2 separate regions of the Homo sapiens genome follow, and region 1 is linked to region 2. Evidence: fine-mapped expression QTL. A gene starts in region 2. The other region holds a variant in brackets. All regions are shown on one strand. Distances are between the middles of the regions.

Region 1 (4,395 bases), 390 kb before region 2:
GAGTGGCATAGTTTTGGTATTCTACATCCTGGAAGATCTAAGGGGGCCCAGTGAAATCACAAGAGTCCTTATAAATGGAAGAAGGAGGCAAAGGAACAAGAACTAAAAAAATGACAGTGTGAGAAGGAGTTGGCCTGATAATGCTGGCTTTGAATATGGAGGAAGAGGCCACAAGCCAAGGAATGTAGCCTAGAGACACTGGAAAAGGCATGAAAATGAATTCTCTCCTACAGCCTCCAAACGAAACACAGCCCTGCTGACACCTTAATTTTAGTCCCAGGAGCCCAATTTGGGACTTCTCACTTCCAGGATTCTAAGAGAATAAATTTGTGTTGTTTTAAGCCATTAAGTTTGTGGTCATTTGTCACAGCAACAATAGGAAGCTAATACACTTTCGTACAGGTCATTTTTCTAATACAGTTCTCAATGCAGCCCTTTAGGACTTCCCTACTTAAAATTGAACCCCTCCCCACTCCCCTTTCCTGCTTTATTTTTCTCTAACACACAATATAGTTAGACTTATTTATCATGCTTATTGTCTCTATCCTTTGTTTAAAACATAAACACACAGCTGGCAGGGTGGCTAATGCCTGTAATCCCAGCACTTTGGGAGGCCAAGGAGGGCAGATCACTTGAGGTCAGGAGTTTGAGACCAGACTGGCCAACATGGCGAAACCCCATCTCTATTAAAAGTACAAAAATTAGCTGGGCGTGGTGGTGGGCGCCTGTAGTCCCAGCTACTCAGGAGGCTGAGGCAGGAGAATCACTTGAACCCAGGAGGCAGAGTTTGCAGTAAGCTGAGATCGCGCCACTGCACCCCAGCCTGGACGACAGAGGAAGGCTCCATCTCAAAGAAAATAATAATTAAAAAATAAAAATAAAACATACATACACAAGGGCAGAAATCATTGCTTCTTTGGAATAGTCCTACCACACAGTAGGTGCTCCATAAAAATTCAGTGAATTAATAACTTAACTTGAATATAGTATTAAGACTAATCCTTTATCCACATAACAGATTCCCTCCACCAAAAAAATTAGCAATTTTGTGGTTATCTCTTTATATTTTCCTCATATAATTTTAGAATCAAACAGAGCCTGCTCCACCCATAATGAAAGTCAAGGAGGAAAGTACATTGGAAATGAGGAATAATTAAAACAACTGTATTAGGCAGGGCTCTCCAGTGAAATAGAACCAATAGGAGATTAGATAGATAGATAGATGATAGGTAGATAGATAGATAGATAGACAGATAGATAGATAGATAGATAGACAGACAGATAGATAGACAGATAGAGTCATGCATCGCTTAACTACAGCACTGTTTTCTGAGAAATGAGTCATGAAGGCAGCTTTGTCATTGTAGGAATGTAACCAAGTACTCCCATTCGTCTAAGAAAAACAGAATGATTTTTTTCTTTTCTTTTCTCCTTTCTCCTTTTCCCCTGTTCCTCACTTCCTACTTAGACCTCCCCATCACCAGACATTCCCTACAGGGCAAGTTCATCTAACTATATGCTTAGGGGCTCCAGAGTGGAACTCTCTCCCGGCTGAAGATTGCCTCGAGAGCAACACTCAATTTACAAGCCTAAGTATGCCCACTACAAAATTCTCTCCCACCTGGAGAGTTTCAGACACTTTTAAAACCTAGTTCTGCCCATGAAGGCGCCAGCTCAATGGCCCAGTAGATAAGGCACTGAAGCGAATTATGTGGACCTCCATCCAATTGCTTTCTCCCCTGCATGCCATTCATGCCAAGC[C/A]CCCTTTTAAAATAATTCCTACTTTCTGCACCTGCTACCCTTAAGACAAGAAGCCTGTACTTCTTCCCCTAAGCTAGCTTTGAAATATAATATATCACTTTTTTTAGAACTAATAAACAAATTTATTAACGTTACAGGATACAAAATCAAGATGCAAAAATCAATGGTGATTTTATACACCAACAACAATCTCATTTATATTAGCAACGAAAAGAAACCACTTAGTAATTAACTTAGCGAAAGAGATGAAAAATTTGTACATTGAAAATTATAAAAGATCGATGGAGGAAATTTAAAAGACACAAATAAATGGGAAGACATCTCATGTTCATAGATTGGAAGAATTTTTTTTAACTTTTAGTTTAATTTCAGGGGTACATGCGCAGGTTTGTTATACAGGTAAATTTGTGTCATGGGAGTTTGTTGTACAGATTATTTTATTACCCCAGTATTAAGCCCAGCATTCACTAGCTATTCTTTCTGATCTTCTCCCTCCTCCCACCCCCACTCTCCAATAAGCCCCAGTGTGTGTTGTTCCCCTCTGTGTGTCCATGTGTTCTCATCATTTAGCTTCCACTTACAAGTGAGAACACATAGTATTTGATTTTTTGTTCCTGCATTAGTTTGCTAAGGATAATGGCCTCTAGCTCTATCCATGTCTCTGGAAAGGGCATGACCTCACTCCTTTTTTATGGCTATATAGTATTCCATGGTGTATATGTACCACATTTCTTTATTCAGTCTACCACTGATAGGCATTTAGGCTGATTCCATGTCTTTGCTATTGTGAATAGTGCTGCAATGAACATACATGTGCATGTGTCTTTATAATAGAATATAAAGCAGTTCCTTTATATCAGACCTCACTCTTGTTAATTGGACTCTGCAAGCAGTGAATGACTGGATCTGCATTTCAGTTACAGGAACAACATAAAGTGTACTTACACAAATTTACACGATACAGTCAAATATACAACTAGGCTATATGATAGAGCCTATCGGTCCTAGGCTAAAAACCCTGTACTGCATGTTACTGTACTGAATACTGACAGCAGTTGTAACACAGTGGTAAGTATTTGTGTATCTAAACATATCTAAACATAGAAAAGCTAAAGTAGTATAATCTTATGGGACCACCATTGTATATGTGATCTATCATTGACCTAAATGTCATTATGCAGAGCATGACAGTATACATATATAAAATAAGGAATTGGTTCACAAGATTATGGGGGCTGAGAAGTCCCGAGATCTGTGGTCAGGCAGCTGGAGACTGAGGAGAGTCAAAGTATAGTTCCAGTTTGAGTCTGAAGGCCTGAGAATCGAGAGAGTAGATGGTGAAAGTTCTAGTCCAAAAACCAGCAGGCTTGAGACCCAAAAACAGCCAATGTTTTAGTCTGAGCCAAAAGGCAGAAAAGACCAGTGTCCCAGCTCAAGCAGTCAGGCAGAAGGAACTTCCTCCTACTTGGCCTTTTTTTTCTATTCAGGTCTTCAACTGATTGGATGAGGCCCAGCCCCATTAGAGAGAGCAATCTGTTTTACTCAGTCTGTCTATCAATTTAAATGTTAGTCCCATCAAAAAACATCCTCTCAGATACACCAGAATAACGTTTAGCCAAAAGTCTAGACACCCAAGGCCCCGTCAGGTTGACACATAAAATTAACCATCACAACCACCAATTTGCATCAATAACATTGGACAAAATGGTTTAGGACATCTAACAAGTGAAATAGAGGAGTTGCTCTGCCCCGACCAAGCCTGAGCCTTGGCTCCACTCCAGCTGGTTCCTGTGCTTGGAGAATAGGAAATCTTTGGAAATATTAGTCAGTTCCCTAGAATATTTAGAAATCCTTGTCCTATAATCAGCCATTTCTCCATAAATACTCCATCAGTTCTCACCTGGATTCCAGACTATATCCACACAGACCATGTATGGGTGAATTCAATAATTCTTTACAAAATAAGTGTCTGATGACTGGGTGCCGTGGCTCATGCCTGTAATCCCAGCACTTTGGGAGGCCAAGGCGGGCAGATCACTTGAGGTCAGGAGTTTGAGACCAGCCTGGCTAACATGGTGAAACTCTGTCTCTACTAAAAATACAAAAATTAGCTGGGGGGCGGCAGGGGGCGGTGGTGTGTCCCCGTAGTCCCAGCTACTCAGGAGGCAGAGGCAGGAGAATCGCTTGAACCTGGAAAGTGTAGGGCGCAGTGAGCCAAGATGGGGCCACTGCACCCCAGCCTGGGTGACAAAGTGAGACTCTGTCTCAAAAGAAAAAAAAAAAGTGTCTGATTGTGATTACTTATTTCATTGTTAAGACAAATGTTCTGGGCTGATCCATCTTTGGCCCAGACTTTCTAGGAACATCAGCTTTTTACTTGTAGCAAAACTATTTACCTGTTTTTGTAGACTAAATTATTCCCTTAACATAGGTAACACAGGCCTGGTCTTGACCCTAGGGAATTTGAACATTTTCCTGAATTATTTCTATGTTCTTATTGATATAATCATGGTAACACTTCCTTCTTTTCTTTCTCCTTCAGGAATTTATTGAGCACTTATTATGGGCTAGTCTTAGTGATTAAAAACACAGTATTTCTGCCCCCAAGCAGCTCAGTCAAATGAAAGGAAGAGA
Region 2 (4,395 bases):
CGCCGGGCCTAGCTGTTTTCTCTTTATCTCTCTGTCTTGTGTCTTTATTTATTACAATCTCTCGTCTCTGAACACGGGGAGAACACCCGCTAAGCCCCGTAAGGCTGGACCCTACAGTTGGACATATACCATAGTATCATGTCAATGCGGATCACAAGGTCAGAAGTTAGAGACCAGCCTGGCCAAGGTAGTGAAACCTCGTCTTTACTAAAAATACAAAAAAAATTAGCTGGACCTGGTGGCGTGCGCCTGTAGTCCCAGCTACTTGGGAGGCTGAGGCAGGAGAATCACTTGAACCCGGGAGGTGGAGGTTGCAATGAGCTGAGATGGCGCCACTGTACTATAGCCTGGGTGACAAAGCGAGACTGCGTCTCAAGTGGGAAAAAAAAAAAAAAAAAAAAAAAAAGGGGCACAGTCTTCTGCATTCTCAGGTAAACAAGAATATAAGTATCCAACATTCATGTATTATATGTAATACATATTATGTGTGGCCGGGCATGGTGGCTCACGCCTGTAATCCTAGCACTTTGGGGGCCGAGGTGGGCAGATCACGAGGTCAGGAGATCAAGACCATCCTGGCTAACACGGTGAAACCCCGTCTCTACTAAAAATACAAAAAGTTAGCTGGGCGTGGTGGCGGGCGCCTGTAGTCCCAGCTACTCAGGAGGCTGAGGCAGGAGAATGGCGTGAACCCGGGAGGCGGAGCTTGCAGTGAGCCGAGATCGCGCCACTGCACGCCAGCCTGGGCGACAGAGCAAGACTCCGTCTCAAAAACAACAACAACAACAAATTAGCCAGGCATGGTGGCGGGCGCCTATAGTCCCAGCTACTCGGGAGGCTGAGGCAGGAGAATCGCTTGAACCCGGGAGGCGGAGGTTGCAGTGAGCCAAGATCGTGCCACTGCACTCCAGCCTGGGCGACAGAGAGAGACTCCGTTTCAAAAAAAAAAAAAAACAAAAGCAAAAACAAAAACAAAAAAACATATAAGTATGTATTAAAAAATAGCAATAAGAAAAAAAAAGACAGTAAGCTCCATGAAGATATAAGCTCCGTGATCCACTATGGCATCTCCAGTGACAGACAGCATCCAGCAACTTACTTGGTACTAAAATGTATTAAAGGAATGAATGAAATACTACTTTGCAATCTTGTCTGCCTTCTCTAACCAACAGAGGTGCAAAAATATCACATTCTAATTATGTATCAGGTATTTATATGTCTGCGAAGGAAGACCTGTCTCGTTAATTTTTTATCCCCAACAGCCTAGAAAATGTTGAAAGAAAAAAGATGGGGGAAAAAGCCCTTTTCTGTAACAAGTTAGAATAGGACCCACATACATTTTGTTACTAACAAAACGTCCAGCTTGTCTTTCTTCTTTGAAAACTGCATGGCCTTAAGAGGAGTCCATTCTAATTAGGAAAAAAGTCACCTTTTCAGAAGCAGGCGCTTCCCACTCCATGCAAAGTGAAGCCAAGTTAGCAAAACCGCAAAGACTTGGCTAATTCAAATACAAGCTAATTTATTATTATTGGCGCAAATTAGCCACTTTCTTTTGCTACGCATGTCAATGTCCACAATCATACCGACCCTTTCCTGTAGGGCGAATGTCTCACCAGTAGCTGGTGAGAAGCACAGCTCTTCTCAGCCAAAACCGACAGAGACTGGAATTTGTGCAGTGCAGTAATCCAAAGCCGTCGAGTAGATATGCCTGCTTTAAAATCTGCATCTCGTAAGAAATGCCTTAATTTTCCATATTAGGAGCTGAGAAACCAAGTCCCCTGAGCCCTTCAGGGACAAGTTCTTTTCCAAATACTACAACCACCTCCAACCACCCAACAATGCCTCAGGCCGAGGGTGGGCCACACGCGACCCAGCGCTAAAGGGTCACAGCCAAGCTGTCCGCCTCCTGCCTTCCCTTTAAAGAAGCCGCACACAAGGGAGCTGCCCGGGAGTTCAACTTCCGGCCACATAGTGAGAGGATGTTTTCCTACTGGAGCTGAGCCGCGGGGGCGCGCCCCCCGGCCGCGCCCTCCTAGCCACGCCCTCCACGCCCGGCCTTCCGAGAGCGAGCTCGGTCGGACGCACGGAAAGGGCTGGGCCACGTGGGCGGCTGCTGAGTGGTTCGCCTTCGCCTCTCAGCGCGCAGTCAGGCGGAGGCAAGCTCAGAGCGCACGGACAGAGCGGTAGCGCGCGCCCGCGCGCGTTCTTAGTACTCTCCCCGGTGACGTGCCTGACCGAGGCCGCGCCAGGGCGCTGTTGCTGCCAATACAGCTGTCATGGCGTCCAAGGCGCTGGCTGCGGAGAAGTGGCCGCGGTCTCCATAGAGCTGGGGGCGGGCGGCCCGGTATGGAGAGCAGCCCCGAGAGCCTGCAGCCGCTAGAACACGGGGTGGCGGCCGGGCCAGCGTCAGGGACAGGTTCTTCGCAGGAAGGGCTACAGGAGACCAGGCTCGCCGCTGGTGATGGTCCTGGGGTATGGGCGGCGGAGACCAGCGGCGGGAATGGGCTGGGGGCGGCGGCCGCCAGGAGGAGCCTCCCGGACTCGGCTTCTCCCGCGGGCTCTCCTGAGGTTCCCGGACCCTGCAGCTCCTCCGCGGGTTTGGACTTGAAGGACAGTGGTTTGGAGAGTCCTGCTGCCGCCGAGGCGCCTCTGAGAGGGCAGTACAAGGTGACCGCCTCCCCGGAGACAGCCGTGGCCGGAGTGGGTCATGAGTTGGGTACCGCCGGAGACGCGGGAGCCCGCCCGGATCTCGCCGGCACCTGCCAAGCAGAACTGACCGCCGCCGGCTCCGAAGAGCCCAGCAGCGCCGGCGGCCTCAGCAGCAGTTGCAGCGACCCGAGCCCTCCTGGGGAATCTCCGAGCCTGGACTCTCTGGAGTCGTTCTCTAACCTGCATTCTTTTCCCAGTAGCTGCGAGTTCAATAGTGAGGAGGGAGCGGAGAACAGGGTCCCTGAGGAGGAGGAGGGCGCGGCGGTGTTGCCCGGGGCTGTTCCTCTGTGCAAGGAGGAGGAGGGGGAGGAGACCGCTCAGGTGCTGGCGGCCTCCAAGGAACGCTTCCCGGGACAATCTGTGTATCACATCAAGTGGATCCAGTGGAAGGAAGAGAACACACCCATCATCACCCAGAATGAGAACGGACCCTGCCCCTTGCTGGCCATCCTCAATGTTTTGCTCCTGGCCTGGAAGGTACATTCTGCAGCTTTCTACTTCCTACAGCTTTTGGGGTGGAGGAAAACGGGGTGAGGGAGCTGCTGCATGTCAGGTGATGGCTTCCTTTCTTTCCTCATTCATCAGTCCCCTTCTTACATGAAATTCATTCCAAGACTTCCATGTTGAAGGAATATTCCTTTATACATATATCGAAAAGAATTGCCCCTAACCTCAGTCTTCTCTTGTAGTGTTTAAGAGTTCAACATTCAATTGTGGTTGATACACTTAGAAACAAGAAGGACTTAGAGCATCTTAAATCTTATGATTATTTTAAACTATAATTTCCTACATTTTCTTACTGACCTTATCACATATGCAAAAAAGTGAAGAATTGGAGAAAGTAATCTTCAGAAGTTACCATCAATCCGTGATATCATGGACTAAGTTTTCATGGTTATATTTAGTTTGATTTCCAACTAATGCCCCATTTGTGTGTAGATACTTAAGAGAATGGTGATGGGGAAGATGTGGCTCTTTAGACAAATTCCATTTAAGGAAAAGCATTGGTCTGAGACCCAATTACCGTAACTTCTTGGTTTTCAAAGATTGTTTTCATTTTATGCATGATTTTTACTTGCCTCATTTCTTTGGCTCTCCTTAAATGGTTTGGCATTATTACCAGTAACCATGCATCCGAATGTGTTAAGGGAGCTAAAACTCTAAAGAACTAAAATAAGAAAAGGTATGTCTAAGGTGAAGGAGCAAAAAAGGGAAAGACCCTTAAAAATAGGTATGTTGAGGACTCAGAGCGAGTTACCTGTCAAATGAAGTGTCTCATTTAAGCTTGCAGTGTTAGGGTGCTGAGAAGATGCATCTCACAGCACCTATTTTATTTTCAAATTGATAATTATATCTGTAGATGCAATGTTTCCTAGGAAAAAAAAACAAAACAAACTGGGTGTGGTGGTGTGCGCCTGTAATCCCAGCTACTCCGTAAGCTCAGCTACTCTGGAGGCTGACACAAGACAATCGCTTGAGCCCAGAAGTTTGAGACCAGCCTGGGCAATACAGTGAGACCCTATATTAAAAGAAAAAGAAAAATAACCTGGATTCTTCTAAACACTTAGGTAGAAAATCAAGTAAAGGGAATAGTGTTTATCAAACATGCCTTTATCTTCCTGTCGCTAGCAAGGACTGATAGAAAAGAAATAAAATTAGAAACCTTGCCATTGTCTGGTGCATAAT

What was found. PIP is the estimated chance that this variant, and not a neighbour inherited with it, causes the effect.
Region 1: its variant is fine-mapped to the expression of MINDY2 in lung (TOPMed, PIP above 0.99).

Annotation. Positions count from the first base shown.
Region 1 is chr15:58,377,218-58,381,612 of GRCh38, forward strand. No RefSeq gene overlaps it. Among named protein-coding and RNA genes, the nearest start is that of LIPC, 53 kb to the right of the region's middle. The variant C/A (reference allele first, on the strand shown) is at 1,762.
Region 2 is chr15:58,769,050-58,773,444 of GRCh38, forward strand. MINDY2 (MINDY lysine 48 deubiquitinase 2) reads left to right here and starts at 2,253. Exons shown (of 9, transcript NM_001040450.3): 1 at 2,253-3,186. The coding sequence starts at 2,347. MINDY2-DT (MINDY2 divergent transcript) reads right to left here and starts at 1,925. Exons shown (of 2, transcript NR_135474.1): 1 at 1,338-1,925. RefSeq lists an enhancer at 1,190-2,115 and a silencer at 1,928-2,207.